4 linked regions of the Homo sapiens genome follow. The protein of the gene in region 1 binds, or shares a complex with, the protein of each later gene. Each region holds a gene or a part of one and is shown in the gene's direction. Other genes may lie near its edges.

What was found.
Region 2: SRRM2 (region 1) and PPIL2 share a complex: the UniProt entries of both Homo sapiens proteins name them as parts of the minor spliceosome.
Region 3: SRRM2 (region 1) and CWC15 share a complex: the UniProt entries of both Homo sapiens proteins name them as parts of the minor spliceosome.
Region 4: SRRM2 (region 1) and CWC22 share a complex: the UniProt entries of both Homo sapiens proteins name them as parts of the minor spliceosome.

Annotation. Positions count from the first base shown.
Region 1 is NC_000016.10:2,755,619-2,762,642, forward strand, and holds part of SRRM2 (serine/arginine repetitive matrix protein 2), read left to right. Parts: intron 1-715; coding exon of another isoform or gene 716-746; coding exon 747-988; intron 989-1,853; coding exon 1,854-1,961; intron 1,962-2,162; coding exon 2,163-2,327; intron 2,328-2,851; coding exon 2,852-2,929; intron 2,930-3,366; coding exon 3,367-3,429; intron 3,430-3,521; coding exon 3,522-3,554; intron 3,555-3,733; coding exon 3,734-3,784; intron 3,785-3,950; coding exon 3,951-4,043; intron 4,044-4,128; coding exon of another isoform or gene 4,129-4,171; exon of another isoform or gene 4,172-4,504; intron 4,505-4,682; coding exon 4,683-4,881; intron 4,882-5,942; coding exon 5,943-7,024. UniProt on the Homo sapiens protein: Required for pre-mRNA splicing as component of the spliceosome. As a component of the minor spliceosome, involved in the splicing of U12-type introns in pre-mRNAs.
Region 2 is NC_000022.11:21,690,011-21,697,034, forward strand, and holds part of PPIL2 (RING-type E3 ubiquitin-protein ligase PPIL2), read left to right. Parts: intron 1-1,374; coding exon of another isoform or gene 1,375-1,483; exon of another isoform or gene 1,484-2,168; intron 2,169-3,805; coding exon 3,806-3,862; intron 3,863-4,582; coding exon 4,583-4,655; intron 4,656-4,744; coding exon 4,745-4,807; intron 4,808-4,926; coding exon 4,927-5,060; intron 5,061-5,383; coding exon 5,384-5,480; coding exon of another isoform or gene 5,481-5,586; 3' UTR 5,587-5,856; coding exon of another isoform or gene 5,857-6,142; 3' UTR 6,143-6,874; coding exon of another isoform or gene 6,875-7,024. UniProt on the Homo sapiens protein: Has a ubiquitin-protein ligase activity acting as an E3 ubiquitin protein ligase or as an ubiquitin-ubiquitin ligase promoting elongation of ubiquitin chains on substrates.
Region 3 is NC_000011.10:94,970,533-94,977,465, reverse strand, and holds the start of CWC15 (spliceosome-associated protein CWC15 homolog), read left to right. Parts: upstream 1-3,909; 5' UTR 3,910-3,968; exon of another isoform or gene 3,969-4,193; intron 4,194-5,272; 5' UTR 5,273-5,280; coding exon 5,281-5,411; intron 5,412-5,978; coding exon 5,979-6,091; intron 6,092-6,400; coding exon 6,401-6,489; intron 6,490-6,933. UniProt on the Homo sapiens protein: Involved in pre-mRNA splicing as component of the spliceosome. Component of the PRP19-CDC5L complex that forms an integral part of the spliceosome and is required for activating pre-mRNA splicing.
Region 4 is NC_000002.12:179,997,275-180,004,298, reverse strand, and holds part of CWC22 (pre-mRNA-splicing factor CWC22 homolog), read left to right. Parts: intron 1-4,392; exon of another isoform or gene 4,393-4,568; intron 4,569-7,024. UniProt on the Homo sapiens protein: Required for pre-mRNA splicing as component of the spliceosome. As a component of the minor spliceosome, involved in the splicing of U12-type introns in pre-mRNAs. Promotes exon-junction complex (EJC) assembly.

The DNA of each region.
Region 1 (7,024 bases):
ATATTTGGAATCAAGGAAATGGCCCTTACCTGGGAGGTGAAGTATATGACGATTATCCAAGGTTCATGTGTGTTTCTGATGTGCATGCTGGCCTTTAGTTGGGGTGTGAGGCTGCACATTCTGAACCAACTAGTCTGCTGTTCAGATACCTAGGGGCTGTGTAGTTTATTTCATATTCGTATAGGGTGGTCTGAAATCCTTAGGTAAGTTTTTGGGAGAGTCTTTGGACATGGACTAGAGGCCGTTGGGTGCCACAGATCTGTGTCTGGTGTTTGTTGTGACCAGGAGGCTTTGGTTGGTTACCAGAGGTTAGGAATTAGAGTAGTTGGTAAACACACCACTTGTGCATTTTGGGGCCAAAGGAGAACAAAAAGGGACAGTGTGGAGAGATTTTAGAGGAACAAGATCCTTGTTTGCCTAGGGTGGAAAAAGAAGAAAATTTAGGTGTAGGGAGGGATTATTTAGAATTCTGTGCAAGGGCATTGAGAGAAAGGCTGTAAGAACTGGGCTGTGATTTGGTAGAAAGGAAATTTGGAAGGGCAAAGAAGTGGTTTTCTTGGGAGACCAGGAGGATGGTGGAGCATTATACAGCGAAGACTTAGTGTGAAGATCAATGTTGAATTAGGGATGAAGGAGAGCAGGGACTTGGGTGTGGGGCGGTAAGTGGTTAGTTTGGGGCCAGGGGCCTGACCCGTGTCTCCCCGCTCCCCCTCAGGAGCGGTGGTGCCCCCCCCGGGCACGGGGCCATGTACAACGGGATCGGGCTGCCGACGCCCCGGGGCAGCGGCACCAACGGCTACGTCCAGCGCAACCTGTCCCTGGTGCGGGGCCGCCGGGGTGAGCGGCCTGACTACAAGGGAGAGGAGGAACTGCGGCGCCTGGAGGCTGCCCTGGTGAAGCGGCCTAATCCTGACATCCTGGACCACGAGCGCAAGCGGCGCGTCGAGCTGCGATGCCTCGAGCTGGAGGAGATGATGGAAGAGCAGGGGTGAGGGAGAGCTGGGGGAGAGTCAAGCACTGAATGAGTGCAGAGCTGGGGGTGTTAGGTGGGATGTATAGGGAGCTTAGGGTGGTTGAAAGAGGCCTGGCAAAGAGTTGTGGTAGGGGAGGAGGCAGATGAGCTCTAGAGAAGTGAAAACAGTTAAGGGACAGTGCAGAGTGGGAAATGAGAAGGCTGTGTGTCTGGGGCATAGATGGGAGCCTGAGGTACTAAATGGAGGCACGTGGGAGAAGGGAGGGGCCATTGAGGAACAAAAATGTGTTTTAAGGAAGAGATGGGAAAGCAGAGACCAGGTAGAGGAGCTAGGTAAGCTGATAGGTGTTGTCATTGGTAGAAAAGAAGAAGATAAATGGATGTAAGGATTGAGGCCTTGGAAAGTAGCATAGGCAGGAAAAGAGGAATTAGAAGAATACGTGAAGAAGTGGGAATCATGGGCTGGGAAGGGAAATTTTGGAAAAGGAGCCCATTAAGGCAGAAAACTCTTTTAGAGCAGTGGTTTTAAACTTCAGCAATGGTGATCCTTTTATACAGTATCCCTTACTTTGGAATCCCAGGAAGTAAAAGGCACATTCTTGTTGAAGTTGGGGAGGAGCACTTGGAACCCTGCTTGCTTAACTTTTTTCTTTTGGTCCCTGAGGTGTAGCATATTTAAAATCCACTGTTCTAGAGGGAGTAGTAAGTAGAGGGAAGAAAGATGATGGGAAAAGATCAGACAGAAGGGACTTTTGGGTGAGCGAAAAGTTCTGTGTGCGCATGGAGAGGGAGGGGCCCCTTTTGGGAATGAGGGAAATGGAAACCTGGGACTGGGGAAAGTGTCCTGTCGAGCTTAACCCTGAAGGGATTTGTTCTTCAGGTACGAGGAACAGCAAATTCAGGAAAAAGTGGCGACCTTTCGACTCATGTTGCTGGAGAAGGATGTGAACCCTGGGGGCAAGGAGGAGACCCCAGGGCAGAGGCCAGCGTGAGTGTTGCGCTCTCCCTCGATGACTCTGGACTCTACTCTGGCTGCTGGCTGCTGCTGCTGTCCTTTTCCTTACGTGGGACTTCCTCCCTGCTTTCGTCTGCCTTTCCCATGCCTTATTTGGCTCCTGCTTATACTTGTGTTCTGAATATGGCTCTGTCCTTTATATTTCCTTCAGACTTTTGCCCTTCTTTTCTCTAGGGTCACGGAGACTCACCAGTTGGCAGAATTAAATGAGAAGAAGAATGAAAGACTCCGTGCTGCCTTTGGCATCAGTGATTCTTACGTAGATGGCAGCTCTTTTGATCCTCAGCGTCGTGCCCGAGAAGCTAAACAACCAGCTCCTGAGCCTCCCAAACCTTACAGGTATACAAGGCCAAGAAACCACTGTCAGCTTCTTTTCTTGATTGTAAGCTCCATGCTCTATTTTTGTCTTTTTGCGGGCTGGTTTCTTCCCAAACTCTTCAGATTTTGTTCTTCTGAAGTTGAGGTGTCCAAAAAAATGTGTCCAAGGGTTAGTCACAGTGGGTCACGCGCGTAATCCCAGCATTTTGGGAAGCTCAGGCAGGAGATCACTTGAGGCCAGGAGTTTGAGACCAGCCTGGGCGATGTAGTGAGACCCCATCTCTACAAAAAGAAAAAAAGCTGGTTGGTGGCACATGCCTGTAGTCCAGGCTGCTTGGAGAGGTGGAGGCAGGAGGGTCTTTTGAGCCCACAAGTTGGAGGTTACGGTGTGAGCTGTGTTGCTGCCACTGCACCCCACCTGAGGCAACAGAGCGAGACTCTTATTTTTTTATTTTTATTACTATTTTTTTAGACTCTGTCTTTTAAAGAAAAGAAAGGAATGTTTGTTCTACCACCCATCTCTGCTGCTTTTCATTTTTCCCTAGCCTTGTTCGGGAGTCTAGCAGTTCTCGCTCACCAACCCCAAAGCAGAAGAAGAAGAAAAAGAAGAAAGATAGAGGACGGTAAGTTAGTTGGAAAGTGACTCTGATAGCCAGAGGACCAATCCTGTGGTGTACCTTTCTCTCTGGAAGTGGACAGTTCTGGCTTCCACAAAGCAGGAGATAGTTGTCAGGGAGGAGGGAGTTACCATTGAGGCCTCAACTAGAAGAAATACCTGAGTTTCTCAGTGGGGAAGTGTTGAGTTTGCAGTTCTGCTAATTAAGATTGGCCAGCAGCATTTTGGATTCTGGAATTTTCTTTTTCATTTTGAGGTTTGTTGACTTAAGGAGTTACTTGTGCTTGTTGGAGAAAGAAGAAATAAGTCCTGGGCTTAGGTCTGGGGCATTAGTGCTATTAGGACATTCAAGTGTTTTAGAAACCTTTTTAGGAGAGAGATTGTAAGTGGGAGGGCCAGGAAAGAAGCCAAGCAGGATGAGCTTGCTTTTGAATCCATCTTTAGCAGGTCAGAGAGCAGCTCTCCTCGACGGGAGAGAAAGAAAAGCTCAAAGAAGAAGAAGCACAGGTATGAGGTGGGAATACTTGAATGACTGGAGAAGGTTTGCTGAATTCAGGCAGAGGTGTTTCTTATGTTTTTTCTTCTCTTTTTTCCAACAGGTCAGAATCTGAGTCCAAGAAACGTAAGCATAGGTAAGAGCTCTTTAACTCATAGGGGGCGCAGTGGCATGTGGAGTGGTGATTTTTTTTTCTTGGAGTGAAGCTCAATTCCTTGATCTTCCTTGTGTCAACACTCCCTCTTTCCATTTCACTTTTGGTTTTATTTCCTTTTTTAAAGAAGTTACTTTTAACAACCTTTCCTTATTTCCCAGGTCTCCCACTCCAAAGAGCAAACGTAAATCTAAGGACAAAAAGCGAAAGCGGTGAGTGAATTTGTGGGGAATTTGCTTAGGAAGTAAGTGAACGCCACCTTAGTGGGAGGGAGTTGAATGAGTTATGTCCCTGACTGGTAAAGGGTTGAGGGATACGTGAGGAGAATCCAGGGCAGGTACAGCAGTACCCTGAGCTGTGGTGGTGGTCTTCCTTCAGGTCTCGAAGTACAACACCAGCCCCCAAGAGCCGCCGGGCCCACCGTTCAACTTCTGCTGACTCTGCTTCCTCCTCCGATACTTCCCGCAGTCGGTAAGGGGTAGTCCAGGAGGAAGGGAGGGAGAGGGAATGATGGGTTAATTAATTTAATATTTATTGAGCGCCCACGGTGTGCTAGGCGCTGCACAGACCATTCGGAAGACACGGTCCCTGCCCTCTAGGAGCTGACAGGCTAAAGCAACAGGATGGACAGACATATACATTTCCCCTTCTCTTTTTTTTTTTGTTTTTGTTTATTTGTTATTTTTGTTTCGTTCTGATGTATATGGACTGCCAGAATAGGGGGGGTGGTGGTTTGTTCGTGGTGTCTGGGGGAGGAAGGAATCCTTACCCTGGCTTCCTTAATCGGGGAAGGCTTCCTGAAGGAGGTGGGCTCAGAGGTGAGTTGTGAATGAAGCGGGTAGGGAGTGGGCTGGGTGGATGGTTTGGGGATGTTTGGGGGAGGTGAGTAAAGGGGTAGAGGGAGAACGCTCTTTGGGATTGTGTTGGGAAAAGAAGAACCAAAGTGGACTGTACTTGCATTTCAGTGAATGATTTGAGTTGTGCGACTAAAGGCTTTTTGGAAGAGGGTTGTCCAGTTAGGAAAGGTGGATGGGAGTTGGGGAGGGGGTTTTCTGTTCTCCCTTTGAGCTGATTTCCTTCCTCTCCCACGTCCTCAATTAACTCCTGCAGGTCTCGAAGTGCTGCAGCTAAAACTCATACAACTGCCTTGGCTGGGCGAAGTCCTTCCCCTGCTTCAGGGCGACGCGGGGAGGGAGATGCGCCTTTCAGTGAACCAGGTACTACCAGCACACAACGGCCTAGTAGCCCGGAGACTGCTACGAAACAGCCTAGCAGCCCTTATGAAGACAAAGATAAAGACAAGAAGGAGGTATGTTCCTGAGTTGGTGATGTTCATTGGATTGCAAATGTATAGATTTAGGATAGACATGTGATGTGAAAGGGAGAGGTAATAACTTATTAAAATAAATAAATTCAGTTTTTTTTCCTGCATTTCTCTCCTAGTTCTCTTACTGCATCTGCAGAACTTTTAGTGTTGTTACTAGACTGAATTGTGAACCCTTTAGAATCAAATCTCACTGGATGTTAGGTTTTATATTGTGTCTTGTTTATACATAGATAGAACTGGAACAAACGTTGTATCTTATCTGTGTACTCCGTATGATGCCTCTAGTTTCTTCTCTTTTTTCATTAAATGCTGGTCATGTCTCACCAAAACTTTTTAATCCATTGCGTTGCCACCAATAGTTTGAATGAAACACTGAAATAGTCTTCAGTAGTCTTCTGTTCCAATTTTAAGCATTAATCATTTCCTCTTGCTTTAGTGATTACAGTCTGAATTCTTGGCCTCTATCATCAATTTTCCATGTCATCCAGGGTTACCTTTCCAAATTACAAGTTGGTTGACCTCAGAAACTTAACTACTTCCTTATTGCTTTTGAATTATATTTAAGGCTTTTAATAGTCTGGTCTTTTTCTCATTTCCTGTACTCTACCCATCCTGGGCTGCTTTTTTACTCTTCACACAAATCATGTTCTCACATCTTTATTCATGCTGTTTCTTTTCGTTTAATAGAGTTATTCTTCAAAGGTGAAGTTGCCATTCGCTTTAGGAAACTGCTTATTTTTCCATTTAAAGATAGTTTTTTTCCATTCTTATAACATTTTGTAGTGGTATTTGTTAAATGTAGTAGTGCATTAGTTATTTGCATTTTGTGTTTCTTTTAGTTTTAAGATTCTGGCTATCCATATATTCATATGTTTTCACCACTGTGCTTTATATGATTCCTTGTTATTGAATGAAAGTGATCGCTTGTGGTCAGAGGGTGTGTAAAAGAAAAGTTATCATTGGAAAGGGTGTTGGGATCTTAGGGGTGATGTGAAGTTTTGGCGTTTATGAATCCCTATCCCTGCTCTCTCTTCCACTCTTAGAAATCTGCAACTCGACCTAGCCCCTCTCCGGAAAGGAGCAGCACAGGCCCAGAACCACCTGCTCCCACTCCGCTCCTTGCTGAGCGACATGGCGGCTCCCCACAACCCCTTGCAACCACCCCCTTAAGCCAGGAGCCAGTGAACCCCCCATCTGAGGCCTCTCCAACTCGGGACCGTTCACCACCTAAGTCTCCCGAGAAACTTCCCCAGTCTTCTTCCTCAGAGAGCAGCCCACCATCCCCTCAACCTACCAAAGTTTCTCGGCATGCCAGCTCTTCCCCAGAAAGTCCTAAACCTGCTCCAGCTCCAGGGTCCCACCGAGAGATTTCTTCTTCTCCCACATCTAAGAATCGCTCACATGGCCGAGCAAAACGGGATAAATCACATTCTCATACCCCCTCCCGTAGGATGGGGAGGTCCCGTAGCCCTGCCACCGCTAAGAGAGGGCGATCTCGGTCTCGAACCCCTACCAAGAGAGGTCATTCTCGATCCCGATCTCCCCAGTGGCGTAGGTCCAGGTCTGCACAGAGGTGGGGAAGATCTAGAAGCCCCCAGCGACGTGGCCGCTCTAGGTCTCCTCAGCGACCAGGCTGGTCTAGGAGCAGAAATACCCAGAGAAGAGGCAGGTCTAGGTCAGCAAGGCGAGGGAGGTCCCACTCTAGATCCCCAGCCACTAGGGGTAGATCTCGTTCTAGAACACCAGCCCGCCGGGGCAGGTCCCGCTCTAGAACACCTGCCAGGCGGAGATCACGATCCAGAACTCCCACCAGGCGTAGGTCTCGGTCTAGAACACCAGCCCGGAGGGGCAGGTCTCGGTCTAGAACACCTGCTAGGCGCAGATCTAGGACCCGATCACCAGTACGACGCAGGTCTCGTAGTAGATCACCAGCCAGGAGAAGTGGCAGGTCACGCTCTAGAACCCCAGCTAGACGTGGCCGCTCACGCTCCAGAACCCCAGCCAGACGTGGCCGCTCACGCTCTAGAACCCCAGCTAGACGCAGTGGTCGCTCACGCTCCAGAACACCAGCCAGGAGAGGGAGGTCTCGGTCTAGGACACCAAGACGAGGAAGATCCCGCAGTAG
Region 2 (7,024 bases), on another chromosome or scaffold:
CAGGTTTTGCTGTGACAGGTGTGGCCCCTGCATGTTACGAGCAGGGCTGGCTGTGGCTTTGTGGCCTGGAATGGTTAAAATCACAGGGATGGCCAGGCGTGGTGGCTCACACCTGTAATCCCAGCACTTTGGGAGGCTGAGGTAGGTGGATTGCCTGAGCCCAGGAATTCGAGAGCAGCCTGGGCAACATGGCAAAACCCGATCTCTACAAAAAATAAAAAAAATTAGCGGGGCATGGTGGCGTGCGCCTGTAGTCCCAGCTGCTTGGGAGGGTGAGGTGGGGGGATAATCTGAGCCTGGGAAGTCAAAGCTGCAGTGAGCTAGGATCGCGCCACTGCACTCTATCCTGGGCAGCAGTGAGACCCTGTCTGGAAAAAAAAAAAAAAATCAAACGAGTCAGCTGTGCTTAACAGCTGGGCAAAGGCAGCTGGCAGCTATTCGTGCCACTTCCTTGGGGCTTTCATTTCAGGGTTAACGGGCACTTGTTTCCATGAAGGCTGGTATTCTCTTGGCCTCGCTGTGCTGACCTTTTTTTCTCATGCCTAATCACACTTTCCATTCCTCAGTCCCTTAGTGGTCTTTGAAGGGTTTGTCTGTTTTCACTTCACTTTGAAGGGTTTGTAATTGTTTTCAGTTTCTGTCTTTGCTTCTTCATGGTGCTTTTCCTCCTTCCTCACTTTAATCCATGTGTGTTTCTGATAGCCACGTCTGTCATTTTGAGGGTGCATGTTCCCTCTTCACTGCTTGCTGGTTGTTGGTAGCTTCCCTTTCAATTTCTTCTCAGCCAAGGATTGCCTAGGACTGTTGGTTATTTTCAAGTAGGTTGGGTGCGTGGTTTGTTTTTGTTGTTTGGCAGGGGCCAGGGCAGGGAATCATTTTATTATTTTTTATTTCTCTTTGGCTTAACCAGCCTGTGAAACTGCTGACAGATCAGTTGCCACCTTCTCTTTTTTTTTTTTTTTTTTTTTTTTGAGATGGAGTTTCACTCTTGTCACCCAGGCCGGAGTGCAATGGCGGGATCTCGGCTCACTGCAACCTCTGCCTCCTGGGTTCAAGCGGTTCTCCTGGGATTACAGACGCCCACCACCACACCAGGATAATTTTTTGTACTTTAGTAGAGACAGGGTTTCACCATGTTGGCCAGGCTGGTCTCCAACTCCTGACCTCAGGTGATCCACCCACCTCAGCCTCCCAAAGTGCCGAGATTACAGGCATGAGCCACCACACTCGGCCTTCTTTTCTTATTTCTAGTAGTATTTTGTGCTTTCTTGGACAACTGTTGCCAAAGGTTTGCCTATTTTACCGTATTCAAAGATCATTAGACTTTAATTTGTTACAGCTTTGTTTTCCCTTTTGTGATTCTTGTAATTAAAGATTTTCCAGGAGGAGGCCAGGCGCGGTGGCTCATGCCTATAATCCCAGCACTTTGGGAGGCCGAGGCAGGCGGATCACGAGGTCAGGAGATCGAGACCATCCTCGCTAACACGGTGAAACCCCATCTCTACTAAAAATACAGAAAACTAGCCGGGCATGGTGGCAGGCGCCTGTAGTCCCAGCTACTCAGGAGGCTGAGGCAGGAGAATGGCGTGAACCCAGGAGGCAGAGCTTGCATTGAGCCGAGATCGCGCCACTGCACTCCAGCCCTCCAGCCTGGGTGACAGAGCGAGACTCCGTCTCCAAAAAAAAAAAAAGATTTTCTAGGAGGAGCTTGCCTCAGGATGGTTCTTTTACTTTCCTCTTATCTGAGTTTAATTCTGCTTCTAGTTTCCTTCACTGTGTTAGAAATCAGCAAGAGAGGGAACTGCTTGCAGGTCAGAGCTCAGGTCTGCACCGTTGCAGATGTCACATCTGCGGACACTTGTCTGGTGGCCTCGGGTGTGGTCAGACTTGGTGGGCTCAGGAGCGTGTCCCTGCGTGGCTGGGGGGTGCATGTTTGATGCAGTGGAGGTTAAGTCCTGTGTCTCACCAGCCGGGTTGTGGGCTGTGCCTGCCTGCACCACCCTGGGGAGTGCTCCGTGCCGCCAGCGCCGGGACCCACCCCATGTCTTCCATCGTTTTCTTTTCAGCCTCTCTGGCTCTGCCCTCTGAGGGCTTTTTGAAGGCTCACAGCTGGGGTCTGTCGTGTTCTCCTTCATCCTGACAGTCTTTTTTTTTTTTTTCTTTGAGACGGAGTCTCGCTCCGTCCCCCAGGCTGGAGTGCAGCGGCGCGATCTCGGCTCACTGCAAGCTCCGCCTCCCAGGTTCATGCCATTCTCCTGCCTCAGCCTCCCTAGTAGCTGGGACTACAGGCGCCCGCCACACGCCTGGCTAATTTTTTGTATTTTTAGTAGAGATGGGGTTTCACCGTGTTAGCGAGGATGGTCTCGATCTCCTGACCTTGTGATCCGCCCACCTTGGCCTCCCAAAGTGCTGGGATTACAGGCGTGAGCCACTGTGCCTGGCCAATCCTGACAATCTTAAATGTGGACTTAATTCTTCAGGTGGTCTGTTGCGTTCTATGATCTTGTTGCTTTCTAGTTACCATTTTTTATATTTATTTTCATTTGCTTCTCTTCTCTTTCTGCTGGTTTGGAAATTAGATGTTTTACTTCTGGTCTAAGGTTAAGAAGGACATCTATTTAAAGTCCAAAGTTGGCCAGGTGCAGTGGCTCACGCCTGTAATCCCAGCACTTTGGGAGGCCAAGGCAGGTGGATCACAAGGTCAAGAGATTGAGACCATCCTGGCTAACACAGTGAAACCCCGTCTCTACTAAAAATGCAAAAAAATTAGCTGGGCGTGATGGCGGGCGCCTGTAGTCCCAGCTACTCAGGAGGCTGAGGCAGGACTATGACATGAACCTGGGAGGCGGAGCTTGCAGTGAACCGACATCGCGCCACTGCACTCCAGCCTGGGGGACAGAGCAAGATTCCATCTCAAAAAAAAAAAAAAAAGTCCAAAGTTATGAGGTAGTCTCTGCCTTCCTCCCAGACCAGGCTGGCAGAAACTCTCTCCTCGTCTCATGGCAGTGCTGTTGGCTGTTTTAATTCCACCCCATTTCCTTTTTTCTTTTTCTTTTTTCTTGAGACAGACTCTGTCGCCCAGGCTGGAGTGCAGTGGTGTGATCTCAGCTTACTGCAACCTCTGCCTCCCAGGTTAAAGCGATTCTCCTGCCTTGGCCTCCTAAGTAGTTGGGACTACAGGCACACGCCACCACGCCCAGCTAATTTTTGTATTTTTAATAGGGACAGGGTTTTACCATGTTGGCCAGGCTGGTCTCCAACTCCTGGCCTCAAGTGATCTACCTGCCTTGGCCTCCCAAAGTGCTGGGATTACAGGCGTGAGCCACTGTGCCTGGACGACCTGAGCATTTTCTTAGTCCATGTTTATTTATGTTACCCACGTTTCTTAATCCCTTGACTCCTGTTCTGGCTTTGTTGCCTCCTTTCTCCTCAGTCCTTCAACAGGTCCCTTGATGACATGGGGCTGGCTCTGGTTTTCCAGGTGTCCCCTCGTCCCAGCCACCTCCCACAGAGCTGCATGGCCAACCTGGTTCTGGGCACAGGGACCACCTGACAGGCAGTGGGCAGCAGCCGGGGCAGCAGGAAGACCTGGGGACAGCTGGAGTTCCGGGGTCCCCTGGGCAGCCTTGGGGGCTAATGACCTGCCCTGGTGGGCAGCGCAGGGAACCACGTGCACACATGCGTCCGTGGAAGCTGCAGGTTCCCAGAGCTGGCTGTAGAGGGTGGGCAGCTCCTGGTGTGCTCTTAGGCAGGCCAGGTGCAGAAGGTGCCATGCTCTCCCTAACCATCCAGCCCTCCTCCCCAGCTTCATCACGTTTCGCTCCTGTGCCTACCTGGACAAGAAGCATACCATCTTTGGACGGTAAGGGAAGCGGCTGTGTGAAGCCTGGGGGGTCAGTGGGCTAGGTGGGTTCCTTCCCCACCTGAGGCCTCCTCACTGCCTTTTTCGTGGACCTGAGTCATGTGCCATGCTGGCCATCACTGCTGGGGGTTGAGGCTATGCAGAGCTGCGATGGAGGGTGCTCCATGTGCCAGGGAAGTCTGGCTCTCTAGACCCACCGGGCTCAGGAGAGGAGGAAACTCGCCCATGTGGCCTGGACACTGCCCTGTCTCAGACCCAGTGGCGCGCCACTCGCAAGCCTGGCCACACCCAGCTCCCTTCACCCTCTAGTCCAGGGGTCTTTCCAGCGTTGTGGGCCACGTGGTCTCTGACGCCCACCCAGCTGTGTGGAAGCAGCACGAAACAGGGTGGACGCAGGTGATGTGGTTCTGGCCAAGTGGAACTCTGTTTACCAAACCAGCGGGGAGAGCACAAGCCACGTTTTGTGACTCCTATTTTTCCTGTGGGTGGGGGAAACCAAAAAAAAAACAAAAACAGAAAAAAACCCAGCTGGATATGCCCAGGGCCATGGTCAGCCGACCCCGCCCTTGCCACTCCCTCTCATCGCCTTCCTGGCTGCTGCCCAAGGACCACCAGGCCAGCCTCGGGGCTCTCAACCCCTCTTCCCACGTGCCTTGGGGCTCAGCCGTGGGGGTGCCCTCCTTGAGCACACGCAGACCCACCTCTGTCTCCCTGCTGCAGGGTTGTTGGGGGCTTTGACGTACTGACAGCCATGGAGAATGTGGAGAGTGACCCCAAAACTGACCGCCCTAAGGTCTGTGCCCAGGGAGGTGGGGCGTGGCGGCTGGGGGCCAGGCAGGCAGGGGGAGGACCTGCCGTGCACTGAGCCCCCTTTGCTGCTAGGAGGAGATCCGCATTGATGCCACTACAGTGTTCGTGGACCCCTATGAGGAGGCCGATGCCCAGGTGAGGGGGCACGATGCCACCACCTAGGAGGGTCTGGGCTAGTGCACTTTTCCACCCCAAGCCTAGCATCTGTCCTGCCCGAGGTGCTGCCGGTTAGCCAGCGCCCTGTTGTGCCACAGATTGCGCAGGAGCGGAAGACACAGCTCAAGGTAGCCCCGGAGACCAAAGTGAAGAGCAGCCAGCCCCAGGCAGGGAGCCAGGGCCCCCAGACCTTCCGCCAGGGCGTGGGCAAGTACATCAACCCAGCAGCCACGTGAGTGCCGCGGGGCTGGCCTCCCTGTTTCCCATGGTGTTTCCTAGGGCTGACTGAGGTCTGAGGGTCAGACCCAGAGGGGCAAGCAAGCTATGGGCACTGGTCCCGGCCGTGGGCTTGTGCTGTGTGGCCTCTGCAGCCGAGGGACTGCCTCTGAAGGCCTGGCCGGGGCCTCTGTGGGTGGAAGAGATCAAATTCAGGGGGATGTGGGAGCAGCAGGTGGGAGGGGTTGGGCCTACACCGGGAGGGCTGTATGGAGACACAGACAAGTCAGGAGGGGCTGAGGGAGGGTGTGGGCTCCCAGCGGCTTCTTCTCTTCCCAGGAAGCGAGCAGCAGAGGAAGAGCCCTCAACCAGTGCCACTGTCCCCATGTCCAAGAAGAAGCCCAGTCGGGGTTTTGGGGACTTCAGCTCCTGGTAGCAGCAGGTTGGCCGCTGTGGACCTTGGTGGGGTTGCAGGGCTGGGGGCCCATGTCCACATCTCCATTTCCAGCCTTTCTAGCCTGCCCTCTGCTGCCAGCCAATAAATTGCTTGCCTGCTGCCTGCATCCCCTTTCCTGGCCCCTGGGAGCCCACAGCCTTCCCATCCCTTAACCTGTTGCCAAGGGCCTTGGCCCTGTTTCCAGGACCTGGCCCAGCCAGAGCCCACTGCTGGGACCTTCAAGCACAAGGCCTGCCCTACACCCAGGCTGGTGCCTCAGGCCTCCCCTCTAGTAGGCAGGCCAGGTTAGTGAGGAAGGACTGTGTCTCCAGATTGTGGTTTCCTCTTTAAGACAGGGTCTTGCTCTGTTGCCCAGGCTCCAGTGCAGTGGTGTGATCATGGCTCACTGCAGCCTCGACCTCCTGGGCTCAAGCAATCCTCCTGCCTCAGCCTCGCAAGTAGCTGGGACTACAGCCGTGCACCACTACATCCAGCTGTATATGTCTGGTTTTCTTACCCCTACTTCTGTCATCTTCTCAGGGACAGCCTATTTATACAACCAGTGTGGTCCCCTGACCAACGCCATTACCTGGGACAAGTTTTCAGACCCCAGACTTACTGAGCCTAAGCCTCTGCAGGGTGGGCTTCTCGGTCTGTTTTGACAAAACTTCAGGGGCTTCTGAAGGCTGGTGTTGGACGGCAGCATTGAGTTTCCTGCCGTGCCCTGCCTGAGCTCTCAGGGCCCTGCTCACCTGCTCTGGCTGTGAACCACCTGGGCTTCATCTCAAGCCTGCCTGGCGTCTCTGTGCCCCTGTGAGAATCTTGAGGGGACCCACACTGGGTTGAGGCCAGTGTCTCCTGCTGTGAGAACAAGTGGATGTCCCTCTCCCCGCCCTCCTGCTGAAGTGGCCTTGCTGCTCTCAGGCCCGGCCACTGGGCTCCAAGACTCTGCTCCTCCTGTCAGTCACTGACTCTGATGGCCTTGGGCCAGCTGCATCAGCAGCCCTTAAAGAAAGACCCCTCCCTCAACCCCCATTTTTCTGTTAAATGTGCCCCTGGCTGGCTTTTTCTTCGTCTTCAGCCCAGGCCAGTGGTCAGTGTTCTCATGTCATGGACTCTCCTTGCCTGACACTTGCCTCTTGGGCTCCCTGTTGCCCTCAGGCCACCCCCCACTTCTAGTTCTTCACACTAAGCCCTAACTTAGGCCTTGTTCTTGGTTTTCTCATTTTTGTTGCCCCAAATCTTGAACCTGTCAGCAACTTGCAGGCTGTACCTCTGCCCTTCCTTTTCTCATCAATCACTGATGCTGAAGCTGCAGGCCTGAGCCCTTTGTCTCCCTGGATGCTGGGTGGCGCCTCATCTGCATCTCTGCCTCACCCCATCCACTGCCACAGGCTGCCTGATGACCACTAGAGGTATGTCTGCCCCTCGTCACCCTGCTGCACACCAATCTGTGGCCCTTCATCATGCTAAGAACAAGAACTGCGCCATGGCTGGCTCCTTCTCTTCTCCAGCCCATCCCTCTGCAGCCTGTCATCCCTGTC
Region 3 (6,933 bases), on another chromosome or scaffold:
GCAGCTGTGTGCGTGTCCAAGCAACAATATGAAGGAGGTAGCCATGAAAAGCATGAGCAAGTGATGAGGTCAAAGAGGTAGGGGAAAGGGTAGACCATAGAAAACTTTGGAAACCATTGTGAACACCTTGGCTTTTACTGTGAGGGTAATGGGGGACCAATGCCCCCCGCTGTCTGACTGGATCCCCTTTTCTCTCAATCCCATCCAACTATGTTATTAATTTTTTTAATTGTTGCCAATCGGATGCTGTAATGTGATAATCCATTTTTAGTTTACTTTCATTTTCCTCATTAGAAGGTTGAGTGTCTTTCATGTTTATTGACTTGTCTATTTGAAATTGCTTTTTCTGAATGGCCTGCTTATATCTTTTGTCCATTTTTTAATTGGGTAATTTGTGATTTTTATATTATGTGTATCACTAGCAGTAGCAGTAATCCTTTATATGTTATAGGCATTACAAAATTTATTTGCGAATCTAGAATTTATTGACTTGTTTTTGGCATCTACAGCTATAAAATTAATTGTTGGATAAATGAATTTTTAAAAGTATTTCTTTTAAAGCTCTTAAGGTGTTCTGCTTTGATTGAAAGGTCTTTCCAAATTCTAGGTTCTATAAATAGTTTCTTAAATTTTCTTCTTAGGTTTTTATGGTTTCTATTTTCCCTTTTAGGTGTTGATTTTGTTTAAGCTTTAAACTGGAATTCCTATGCTACTCCTGCCATAAAAATAGAAAGTTTTGCAATCAAGGGCCAAACTACATCCCTTTCACATTTAATTAAATGCTACCTTTGGCATACTAAAATGAAAGAGCCTTTTTTAAGGTTAAGATATACTATACCATGTCCAAAAGCTGATAAAAATGATCTGAAAGGGATGGCCTCATAGATCATAAGAAAGAGAAAATATATAGCAAAATGCCAGCCACTAAGAAACCTGGAGGAATTAGGACCCAGAGCACAAGGGAGAGTGTGGGTCACCTCATCTCCAGTAATAATGAGAATCTGAGGATACAGGAATAGCCAAAGGCAGCTCGATAGATCTGCGGAAAAAAGGAGATGAGAAGTCCTTGTTTAAGAGCTTCTGTTTTCTCAGAGAACTGAGAAGATCTACTGCCAGGAAAGAGAATGCAGAGGGAAAAGGAGGTGAAAGAGGCATGTAGACTTGAAGAAAGGGGAATGTGGGAAATTATATTATTGTAGAGGGGGAAAATAAACAATTAGGAGAGCATAAGAGGACTGGCAGGCAGAATTAAGGGCCAAACTAGATTTTGTGGTAACAGGTTTAACATAAGAATTCTTGGGAGGTTATATGATTTTTGCCAGCTAGGTTAACTGATCAGATGAATTTCAAGATTTTAGTAAACTTAAGTTTCTTTTTCTTAATACTTTCAAACCATTTAAGTCAAAAGCTTTAGTTTCATTTTCTTATTAGCACTTTCATTTAAGTCAAAAGCTTTTAATTTTGTGGATTGACTATATTGTATATTGGTGTTAATGAAATTATAGGGTGGCTATTTATCACCACTGGCAACCAAAAGATTAGGTTAGTGGGCTGGGAGTTAAATCAATGAAGTGATTCACTCCAGGCTAATGAGGACAGTTGGAACATAAAAACTGTGGGTATCTCCTATAATTGTGTTACCATCTTGCCATTGTTACGTCATTCCTCTACTTCATAGTGCATCATTCATTCATTCATTCATTCAACAAATACTTACTCAGCACCTATTATGTGCCAGGCACTGTTCTATATGCAGAGGATACACCCAGTGAACAAGAGAGACAAGGTTCCTGCTTTCCTGGAACTTATGTTCTAATATAGGAAGATAGACAATAATAATAAAAATAATATTAATAATAATAATAATAGCTAACATTTATTTAGCAAGTACTATTTGCTGAGACAGTTCTAAGCACTTTACAAGTATTAATTCACTTAATCCTTAGAGTAGTATTACAAGTTAGGGACTAGAATTACGCCCATTTTACACGTGAGGAAACTGAAAGCACAGAAAGGGAAAATGACTTGCCTAAGGTTATAGAGCTAGGAAAGGGCAGAACTGGAATTTAGAACAAAAATGGGCAGGCTGAAGATCCTTTTCTCTTAATGACCTTCGCATGCTGTCTCCTGAGAGACATGGAAATAAAAAATGAATAGAATAGACTCTGGTAATGTTTAGTGGTATGAAAAATGAAACAGGGTGATGTGATGGTGTACAAACACAAGTGTTGGAGGGGTGGGGGTAGGAAAACCTCACTGTGATACCTGAGACATGAAGGATGGTGATACAGTTACTTTGGGGCACAGGCAACAGAGAAAAGCTAGTGCAAAGGCCCTAAAATAGAAGGAATCTTGCCCTGTTTTATAAAACAGAAATGCCCACTTGGCTGTGTCTAGAGCTTAGTGCGTAAGCGAGTGACTGATTGGAAGTGAAGTCTGGAAGGTAGGCAGGAACCAGACTCCGTGGGGTCTCAGGTCACATTAAGAAATGTGATTTTTATTCTAAGTGCAGTGAAATTGTACACAGGATAGTAACACCATTTTATTAATTTTAAAAGATCACTCTCTTGGCTATATGCAACACTGACTGTAGGATAAAAGATGACGCAGGAAGATATAATAGGAAGCAATTACAATCCAGGTAGGAGATGGTGTTGGCAAAGGCAAGGGTAGTGGCAGTAGAATAAAATTGCGGGTGAGTTTTAAAAGTAGAATTGTTAAGACCTGTAAATGAACCGTATGTGAAGAGTGAATGAAAAGGAATTTAAGTAGGCACTCCGGGATTTTGGTTTGAGTAACTAGCATGATGATCGCGTCTTTTAGTGAGACTTGTTAAGACTGGAGGAGGGATACCTTCGGTAAGAAAAATCAGGATTTTCATCTTGAACTCTATGACTGAAAGGGCTTTTTCTGCTTTTCTTTCTTCATTAAAAAGTTGCAAAGAATTTAGGGGTAAGAAAGCATTTAAATATTCAATTTTGTGAGTTCCTTACATTTTAAACTAAGTTGGGGAAGTTGAATTTTCATTTGTTTAACAAATATTAATTGAGCAGCTACTATACGTCAAGGTCTATGTGATGAGATACCAAGATGAGCTAAACAACCAAGATCTCTATTCTCAGAATTTGTTTTTATGGAAGGGAGGAGAGACGACTGGTAGGTTTTTGGTTTTCGGGTTTTCTACTTTTCGTTGTCTTATTAAAACTTAACACTTAAGTAGCCATCTTAATAATTACATCTTGTGCTCCTGGTAGTTGGGCCCACCATTGTAAACGCTCTCGTAAATACTGACATCTCCCCTCCCACTAAAACTAACGTTTTTTAAATAAGAAATTTTAGCAAACATTACGAATACAACCTTTGCTTTGAAGTGTTAATATTTTTGCAGGAATGGTACCTTTGTAAAGATCGTGGTTGCCCCGTACATATTTGTTCTTTCTTCATATCCAATTAAATGAAAACACTAGTTTTTCCGAAGCCCAACTCTCTAGGTTTGTTGGTTCTAGCTCAGGAGAAAGGATGGAAGCAGGAGTCGTTGGATTTAAACAGTTTGGTGTAATCCTTTTCCACGCTCTCTCCCGCTAGCCGGGGACGTGGTGTCGGCTACCCGGGGCTTTCCGTCCACGCAGTACCGGAATGAAGGAGTCTGGGAGGGGGTCGGGGACGGAAAAGACGGAAGAGACATTAAGTAATTGGTTCTTGAAGGTATAAAATGAGGTTTAGGGTCTACTCTAAGGCACTGATTTCAAACGCCCGCCCCCTGGGCCGCTTCGGCCCCGCCCCTTAGTGCCGTTACGCCGACTTCCACTTCGGCCACTGCGGATTGGTCGTTGCTTCCGCCCCCGAAGCGCTTGGATTTTGCTTCCGGGTCGTAGGCGCTAGCTCTGGGCGCAGAGGTTTCTGGGAGCCAAGAGTGGTAATGGCGTCTGTATGATCTTCGGAGCCTGCTGCATCGGACCTCGGCCAGTGTGAGCGGCAAGAGGATAGGAGATTATCTTTCTTATCGCGATGGGACGGGAAAGGGCAGTTGGGGTCGGAGTCGGCGGCAGAGTGCAGAGCGCGGGCGGTGGAGGCCCTGGAGCAGCGGGCTAGGGGCGGAACCGAGTGCCTGTCAGGCGCGTCTGGAGCTCTTGGGCCCGCCGAGGAGATCGCAGCGTACAGGCAGCTCGCCTACTGCGTAAAGCGAACCCCAGGTCCTCCCTTCACTACCCTTCGCACCCCTGCAGTGCTGGGCACGGGTGAAGAGGCAGCGAGTTTCTGGTTATAGCCAAAGACTAGCTCACGGGAGGCCGGAGTGATAATTCCGTGGGTGTGTGGGAAGGGGCGGCGCCCCCAGCGCCAGATAACCCTGTTTTCTTCTTTGTATACATGTCTCTACCCTTTTTGAAAGTTGAGAGAATTAGCATCGCCCCCCCCCCAAAAAATCCTCCCAATTCGCCCACCCTCCCCACACACTTGCTTTTCCGACACTAACAGGGTTTTAGTGACTGCATCTGCTGCACAGTATTCTTGTGACTGCTCCAAGCAGAAAGTAACTTGAGGAATGAGTCCCTGATTTTTGGCATCAGAATCCTCTGGGGGTGAGGTTCCTGTTTTTTTTGAACAGGCCTTAAATTATAACCCACAAACGATCTAATTTATAGTATGATGCCTGTTGTAGGAGAAAATTGGCTCAACAAACGGTTGTTTAAGAATTTTTTTCTGTGTAACTGTCATTGAAGTTTAACACACTTTTCTCTGGGACATTTAGTAACTTTGTCAGTGATATTTTTTGTTTGTTTTTAGCTTTTGTTTCTACTAGCCTATTTGCTATTGTGTGAAGTTTAGATAAAATGCAAACCTTACAGAGTCTGGTAGAGTAAGGTTGAGTTGGAAATTTTTAAAACTCAGTCATGGCAGTACTGTATTTTACTAGGGTTTTGACATGTCAAGTGTCATAATTCTTATAATCTATGAGGAATATCTCCATTCCACAGATGACAAAGTTAAGCCAGGTGACTTGCTCAAGCCCATATAGTCAGAAGGAGAATAGGGATGCAAACTCAGATCTTCATGACAGAATTTTTTGTACTAAGGCAAGCCTGAGAAGCCATATTCCTTGTACAGCCTAAGCCTCATAATTTGTTTTCTTGAAAACTTTTGTTTAAGAAGATTAAGCAGGTTTTGGGGAATGAGTTTTAGAACTTATTTTACCAGTATGGATATTGATTAATACTCTATAAAATGAGTGTTTGTAATGTTGGAAATAACTTGATTATATTTTTCTTCAAAGCATAAAAGATGACAACAGCAGCCAGGCCAACCTTTGAACCTGCCAGAGGTGGAAGGGGAAAAGGAGAAGGTGATTTGAGCCAACTTTCAAAGCAGTATTCAAGCAGAGACCTACCCTCTCATACAAAGATAAAATACAGGTAGTAAGACTTTCTTTTTTTATTGTTCACAAAACAAGACCAGATCTGTTAAATGGCATGGTCATGATATAGTAGTATGTTTGAGTTATGTCACTTATCTATTTTCATAGGAATAGAATGCAATAGGATGTTTAACACTAAAATTCTGCTGTGATTTTAAAATGTGAAATTCCTACTAACCAGGAATTTTCATATGTAGATAGAACAATAAATAATAGAAATAATAATGCCTCAGAGTATGCACTATGAGCACCAGTCAGTATATTAAAAGTATTACTGTTAAGTTCTGAGTTGATATAATCCTAATAAAAATTAAAGACATTTTAATCACTGTAAAGCCTTATTATAGGAAAATATGTGATTGAATTTGGACTTCTTGAAATATTGGGAACATCACAAGAGTGGCTGTTAGTAACCTTCAGATTAAATTATGATCTTGTCTACTTCCCTTTTTTCTGCTTGAAGGACAAAGTCTCATTCCTGAATTGTCTTCCATTACTACAGTCTCTGTGTGTGTGTGTGTGTGTGTTTAAGTAACATTTTTGCCCTGGTTTGTTTCTACTTTAGACAGACTACTCAGGATGCCCCTGAAGAGGTTCGTAACCGTGACTTCAGGAGAGAGTTGGAAGAAAGAGAGAGAGCTGCTGCAAGAGAGAAAAATAGGGATCGTCCAACCCGAGGTACCAACACTATCCAAGACATTTGTCTCATAAAATTATGTTGTTGATAGTTTTTCTTTATGTAGCAATTGGAAAATGTTAACCATTTGTTTACTTTTACAGATTGATGTGAGCTGTACTACTTTCTTAGGTCATTAGAGATAATAACAACAAATATTTACCAAAGGCTTATTTGCCCAGGCACTGTGGATGTGAGTTCACTGTGGATAATGCTTTTAATGTGGGCTCCTTGTGCTCACAGGTCCCTAAAACATTTTAAGAAATGAAGTATTTGTTTTACTAAGTTAAATGATTTTTGTTTCCCCCCAGAACATACAACCTCCTCTTCAGTGTCAAAAAAGCCACGGTTAGACCAGATTCCTGCCGCCAACCTTGATGCAGATGACCCTCTAACAGATGTATGTTTTGTTTCCTCCTTTCATCTCTAATAATTGATTTACCATGCTATTCTAAAATACTTGTTATGTCTTTGCTTTAAGAAGTGACATATATTTATGTTTAGTTACTGTTATTCAAATATAGCCCTGACCTCAGTGCTAAACTTTATAGTTGATTTTAAAATCAAAAGTATTATTTTGTGGGACTTTAAGAACAAGTTTGATCTCTAGAGAACCAAATATGGAAGGAATCTATAAAAGGATATGCTTTCCCCCAAAATAATGTCCTGTACTAAACTACTGCACTACTGCTGTGTTACACACCTCTCCAGGGCACTCTTCATACTGGGCTTCCTATAAACAGTGCCCTCTAGAGTTGTACCTGGAGGCCTTTCCATATTAGATATGTCCCCTTCTATAAGTGCAATACACTTAATGGTTCCCTCTGTGCTTAGGGAGGGAAGT
Region 4 (7,024 bases), on another chromosome or scaffold:
CAGTGATGCATTTTGTATTTCAGATGCCCATGCCTTAACTTGAATAATATTTTCAATTTATTGTCCACTTGTATTTAAATGGAATTTTGTACTACTCATCATATCCCTAACTTGGTCATGGTTTGTTCATGGTGCCTGGAGCTAGTCCGAGAAAGAAGTGGCTATTGGTAATACATTCATGCATCCCTCTTATAACTTTGAAGCCTCCCTTGTCGAATTTCCCTACTTTTCTGTTTATCTGAGCATGGGAGGGTGGTGGAACAATAAAGCCAGAGAGCATACTAGTTTCAGCAAACTCCCAGACTTAAACTTTTTCTCAGTATGTACATTTCCCAAGTGGACATTGGAAGAGACATTTGAATACCTACAACAAAGTACAAACTTTAAGCATGGATTATAGCTAGCCTTTATATAATAAAGTTAATAAGTCTTTCCTAGTGAACAGATACCAAAAACGGGGTATGGGCTGCCTTGGCCTTGGGACATATTAACTCCTGTGGAATGGGTTAGCTAGTGGGGAGGAGGAACTCGGTGACTCATGTTTAACCTGTCTTTCAGCCTAACTTATAAATGGGTGGAGCTAGACAGAGTTCAGCACTTCCACCTGAAAAGTTACCCTGTGAGTCCTTCCTGAAATAGTTTGTCAGGATAGCTTTATTTTAGACCTGGCTACAGGAGCCTCTGTAGTAGAATGCAGTGCTTGCATGTCTAGGGGCTAAATTTCTCTGTGGAGGCCAACACCTCCAAGTTTTCTTTAAACCAGAATGTGGTTTACTACGTGGCTCTCTAATTAAATAACCAGGTGACTTTCAAAGCTGTGCCTTGAAAATTGGCAGAATGTGTTCACCCATATACTTAATTAGGCAAGCTGAGGAACAGATTTGGGACAGGAGAGAGTGGTTTGAATGTGTGATGAAGGCATATGGCATATTCAGTAATTAGGGTTGATTTTGTAAGTTAAAAGAACTGCACCTTCAGGGACAGATTTCCTTTTGCAGTGCCTGCAAAGGAACTAGTATTTTTTTCATCTCACTCAATGAGGAAGTGTTTTCAAGCTGTTCCACAGGTTAACATGGAGTGAAGACTAATAGGGGGTGGCATCTGATAGTGTTGTCTTGATGTACTAAGACTTGGAAATCTTAGTATTTCCAAGAAGTAGGAGTTAATAGGTGAGACAACGCTGCTGTTGTATTCCTTGATGAACAAGTTGACAAAATGGCATTATAGGAAGTTCTATGTAGGCAGAAATTGGAGTAATCAGCAGAAATCTACACTCCCCGTTTTTTATTTAATTTTAGACTTGGAACTTATTAAGTAGCAGACACTGTCCTAGGTTCTGGATATGTAGCAGTGACCAAGAACCTTGAGGATCCAGTGTACTCATACAGAGCCTTTCATAGTTTAGCTTAATGAGTCTCTCATGTTCCATCTTATTCATGTTCAGTTTTTCATGTACACCTTGGAATCCCCAAATTCTCTGTCTCTGAGTCTTTACACATGCTTATCGTATTTCCTGAATGACCTTTTCCCCTTTCGATATGGATAATTCCTACTTGTTCTTTAAGACTCAGCTTCAAGACCTACTTCTTTCTGTATGTCCCAAACCCTCTTTTCCAGTAACACTTGTTTATGACATTGTTGTAGCACTTAGACATTTCTTCTTTACCCAAGGACAGAGTCCTCAATGCCTTGTCTGTTGTGTAATGTATATATCTCCCCACCGTACATAGACACTGCCTTTAGTAAAGACCATGACTGTACTTTTTCTCTTAGCTTCATACTTCCTCATTTTCTCTGTAAGCATTTTTCTTTTTTCATCTTCTTTTACTATTGTTTTGAGATGGGATCTCACTATGTTGCCCAGGCTGGGACTCTAGGCACATGCCACTGCACCCAGCTTTTCTCAGCCACTGAATATAAATATCAATTATGGCCCTAGCCTAAATGGAACCTTCCCCCAGCCTCCTATATACAGTGACAGAATGAGGGGGAAACATGGGCAGATTTGGTAGAATCAGTAGGATTTGGTGACTTACAGGGAGTAAGGAAAAGGAAATTGCCACCTGGGAAGCTTTGTAAGTCATATCTTAGAAGAAGAGCTGGTTTAAGATGGGGAGAAGGAAATAATTAGTTCCACTGTGGATTTCTTTAGTTCAGATGGCCTTTGGCACATCCACTTAGAGGTTTCCTGTAGCAAATTGGACATCATGATTTGGAACTCTAGAGAAGATTGGCTGGAGTAAAAAGTTGTTTTCGCATGTTAATTAAAGCTATGGGGATGGAGATGATCTTCCACAGATAATATGGAGAAAGAAAAGATAAGGACTATTCATTCATCCATTTAACAAATATGTATTGAGAGCCTCTAGTGTTGGGAATGTAGCAATGAACAAAACATAAATTCATGAGCAAATACTAAACTCTCAGGCATAGTAAATATTAAAGGGATGGACAAATGAAGGTGGTGTCCCTGTAAGTTGACAAGTGAGAACTTCAAGAAGGGGATTAGGTGCCAAATGCTAGAGCAATGTCCCATAAAAGAAGGAAGCTGCCCCTGGATTTAGCAACAAGAAAAAAAGTTACTGTGTAACATTGGTAAGTGCTGTGGAGTAGTGGGAAGGGAAAGCTGAATTACAGTGGGTAGGAGAGGTTAAGAATTAGAGACATCAGGCTGGACATGGTGGCTCACTCCTGGAATCCCAGCACTTTGGGAGGCCCAGGTGGGCAGATCACTTGAGGTCAGGAGTTTGAGACCAGCCTGGCCAACATGGCGAAACCCCATCTCTACTAAAAATACACAAAATTAGCTGGGCATGGTGGTGCGCACCTGTAATCCCAGCTATTCAGGAGGAGGCTGAGGCATGAGAATCACTTGAACCTGGGTGGTGGAGGCTGTGATGAGCTGAGATCATGCCACTGCGCTCCAGCCTGGGTGACAGTCAGACTCTGTCTCAAGAAAAAAAAAAAAGAAAAAAAAATTAGAGGCATCAAGTGTGAACTTACATATCACAAAATAGCTGTGTAGGGATGAGACAGTAAAACTAGAGAGGGGACAGGATAAAGGGAATTTGCCCCATAAATATCATAATTTATTTTTAAATGAATCATTAAAAAGTTCAACATGTAGAATTTTTCTTTAAAACCAACTTAAATAGAAATCAATACTGTACTGTAAATCAAGAGACAGCTTATTGAAATGTTGAAACTAACAAAAATAGACAAATTTCTATTCTCATAGATCCTGCATTCTGTTGAAAAGAAGCACATTGGGGAATCTTCCTATGCGTAAAAAAATTAATAGTATTTCCAAATGATTGGATCACTTAACTCTTTATTTGGTTACTTAAACAGCCTAAAATAGACTAGCTTCATGATACAGGAAATGAATGGGGGTAATACTACCTCCCAATTTATAATGTGAGGTTTTCAGTATAGATAATGGTGTCACTGGGTTCATTAAAATGTCTTTTTTTTTTTTCACTCCTCTGTGTCTTACTGTCTTAAAGTGTCTGAAAATTTGGGCTGTCTACTCTCCACACAGAGTTGCAGACCAGTCAAATGCTTTTATATTACTTACTTCTTACAGAAAACAATGTCCAGAACTGTCTGCACAACTTCTAGCCCTGTACTTGAACCTGGCAATCTAGTCATTCAAATGGTTATGAGTCAGCACACCTGGCATATGCAATGACTATGAAGCAAAAGGGAGGACAGCTCTGCAACTCTTTATTTGTAATTTTTGGAGCCAGAAGTGTTTTGATTTCAGTATCTTGTAGATTTTAGAAAACTGCAGTGCCTATACTACATATTAAGTAATCCCCCCTTTTGGGGTCTGGAGTAACATCCTCTAGTCAAAACACATTAATATTTCTGCACTGTATCAAGTCACATTAAGTATCAAGTCAGTATATGCTAAGTTTTGCTCTCAAGTGAGTTGCCACATGCTTAAGAATAATCTTTGTATTTTCAGAGCTTTACAGATTTTAGAACTGCAGATAAAGGATTTTCAACCTGTACCTGGTGACTTTTCTAGAAAGAGACAGGAGTATTTTGACCCTTTTATTTTCTTGAAATTGTGATTCTATGCTGACATCAAATTATAATTTTTTGGCCTTATGAGGTATATCATGAGGCAATTTTTTCACTAATATGTAAATTAAGACAGGAAAAAATAGCAAGAAACGGTTTTTCTAAAACAAGTAAGTTTTCCTTCAGTACAGATATGGAAAGTACATAGCAATCTTGTTTTATATTGTTCAAGAGCGAAGCCAATCTGTTACTCCTATTTGTTCCCTGAAAAGGAAAATCCGTTCCTTGGGGGCTTGGCTGTTGTTGAGGTATTTTCTGAGAATTCCGTTCCGTTATGTCCCCTCCCATTATATTTTGGCATTTAGAATAATTTTAAGACAGTTTTTATTTTGTATTGTATAATATTACCACTTTCCCCATTGGGCAACTAAGGTTTTTGTTTTGGTTTTTGTTTTTGTTTTAAATATGAACTCTGTTAAAATGTTTGAAATTCACCAAACCTGTTTTTACTATTTAGAAGCCAGAGGAGCCAACTAAAGGTAACTCACTATTGATTCCCCTTTCCTTTAGCAATTTTATGACAATATGTTTCAGCAAGTTCCTCTAACTTGGACTGAGAACACCGAAGTGACAATGGTAGAAGTGTTTTGCTACGGAAATCATCTGGAAAGCAGTGCATTTCAGCCATTAGTTGAATATTTTCTCATTTTCTTAATTTTTGAGATGATTGCAGAATTCACAGTTTTCTGCTTAACAGTCTGACGTACTTATATATGTTATTAAATATTTTGCTTTCTAATGCTTGATGAAACTGAGAGAAAAACTATCTTTTTTTTAATAGTGCTCTCGTGAATACTATATCTCCTATTGGAAAATATCCTTTCTTCGGGAGAACAGGTGTGGTTTTGTTGAGTTGCTTTCTTGTGAGAAGGGGAAAGAAATTTAATAATTCACCATAAAATTCACATAGTGATGCTTAGAAGAGCAGAGAGTGCTATAAACTCTAGATAAATTGCTCTCATTTCAGGAATTTCCGATTAGTGTAAGTATTAGCATGCATATGTTGAACTCAGAATTTCCGAACAGGCATATTCTGCATAAATCTGGACAATGACAATACTTTATTCATTTTTTGTTAGAACTATGATAGCAGTCTACTTTACCATATTGTCATTTTCACACTTACGTTGTGAGACATGGAAATGTAACAGATTGTACTTTATTGCCAGAAATTATTTGCTGATGAAAGTTGAAAGGGGAAAGATGATATCGATCAGAAGAAAACTCACTAAATTGAAATATGTAAATTGAAATATGTAAATTTAAATAGAAATAAAATGCACAGAAATTGCTTGTTCTGAAATGTGTAAGTAGGTTGGGAAGAGGAACCGGGTGTAAGACTCCAGGAGAGTAGCAAAGGAAAACGCTAAATCTTGTGCAATGGGGTCAAGTGATTTTTTATTTTTATTTTTTGCTCATAGTATACCTAGTCACAGTGAATTCTAGGTATGCTAAATTAAATAAAAAGGAATCCTTAAAATTACTATGAATGTTTGAAAAGAAGTAGTGCTTCATTATATTAAATCACAGTCTTTGCTATCTGGAACTTTGAACGAATGGATCAGTTTAGGCTAGGATAATTTTCTGTATAGTAGAGTCTGTACTTGTTTACATTTTATAATTTACCATTTTGGCTTCAATTCGTTAGTGTTGGCATTTTCATTGGGACAAAATATATGGCTTTGGCATCAGATAAACCTGGCTTTGAAGTTTAGCTTCTGCCATTTACTAGGTGTAATTTACGTGGACAAATTGCTTGAATTCTCTGTACTTCAGTTGTTTCACTGAAAAACATGGCTAAAAAAAAAATCACCAGAACAGGGTAATTATGAGGATTGAGGAAGATTGTATAAGTGATTATAAATTGTGGCCATAATTTCTCAAGTTTAAAAAACACTTCTTACCTATGAATTATTAAGAATTAATACATTTGGATTTTCTGTTTCCCTTTCCAATTGATTTACAACTAAGTTCTTCACTATAAAGTAGGTAGGCTGTGGGGTCTCTATATTCTGCCTAAGTGGCTCATGGTTTGAGAACAAATTGAGAACCAAAGTTTCTTATGTAAAATTGAAAAGCTGAGGAGACTTGGGGAAAAGTTGGATTTTGGAGTTACCTTGGGAATACTTTCATAAAACAAGTATGCATGGGTTTCCCCTACACTTTCTGCCCATTTTCTGATTTTGTAAGTCAGAGGTGGGCCCCAATATATGTACAAGTAATTCTCCTGTCATGCATTTTTTCTTGATTCAAGTTGTGTTTAATATAGTGACATCAAACTAGTTTTACACTGTTAAGTAGTGATTTAAAACTGACCTGTAGGAAAAAAGTCCAACCTGTCACCTTGCTTGAGTGGCTTAGTGTTTTGTTTATCATTATAGATTTGTTTCTTATACCTAGAATGTAAGCTTCACATGAACAGATTTTGTTACGGTAGTTCATTGCTGCCTATCCAGTGCCTAGAAAGATGCTGGGCAAATAACAGAAGTGCTGTATTATTTGTTGGGGAACAAATGTACGTATAAATAACACTGGGTTTAAAGGTAATAAAGGATATGTTAGAAATGTTAAATGGTTGTGCTAGTAGAGGTAGGGAAAAAAATACCAATATCTTTGAGCAAAAGTAAGTCGAGTAAAGTTTTGAGTTTTATGGCTCTCTATACCTTTATAGCCATTAAAACAGGAGCTTTGGAAGGAGTCATGCAATTTGGTTTCAACAGAGTCATCTTGTTGAGGCAAATGGTCCTAAAATCCAGCTGAGATAAGGGTTATCCCTACAGGGCTCTCATCCTCAGGTGAGGGAGGGGGTAGCCTCTGTTTTAAATATTTTTTAAAATTCTATTTTAATTTGTAGCCTTTTAAGCTACATTTTGTACTTTTTTTTTTTAGTCATTACTCTAAGGAACAGTATATATATATCCTTAACTTTTCATGT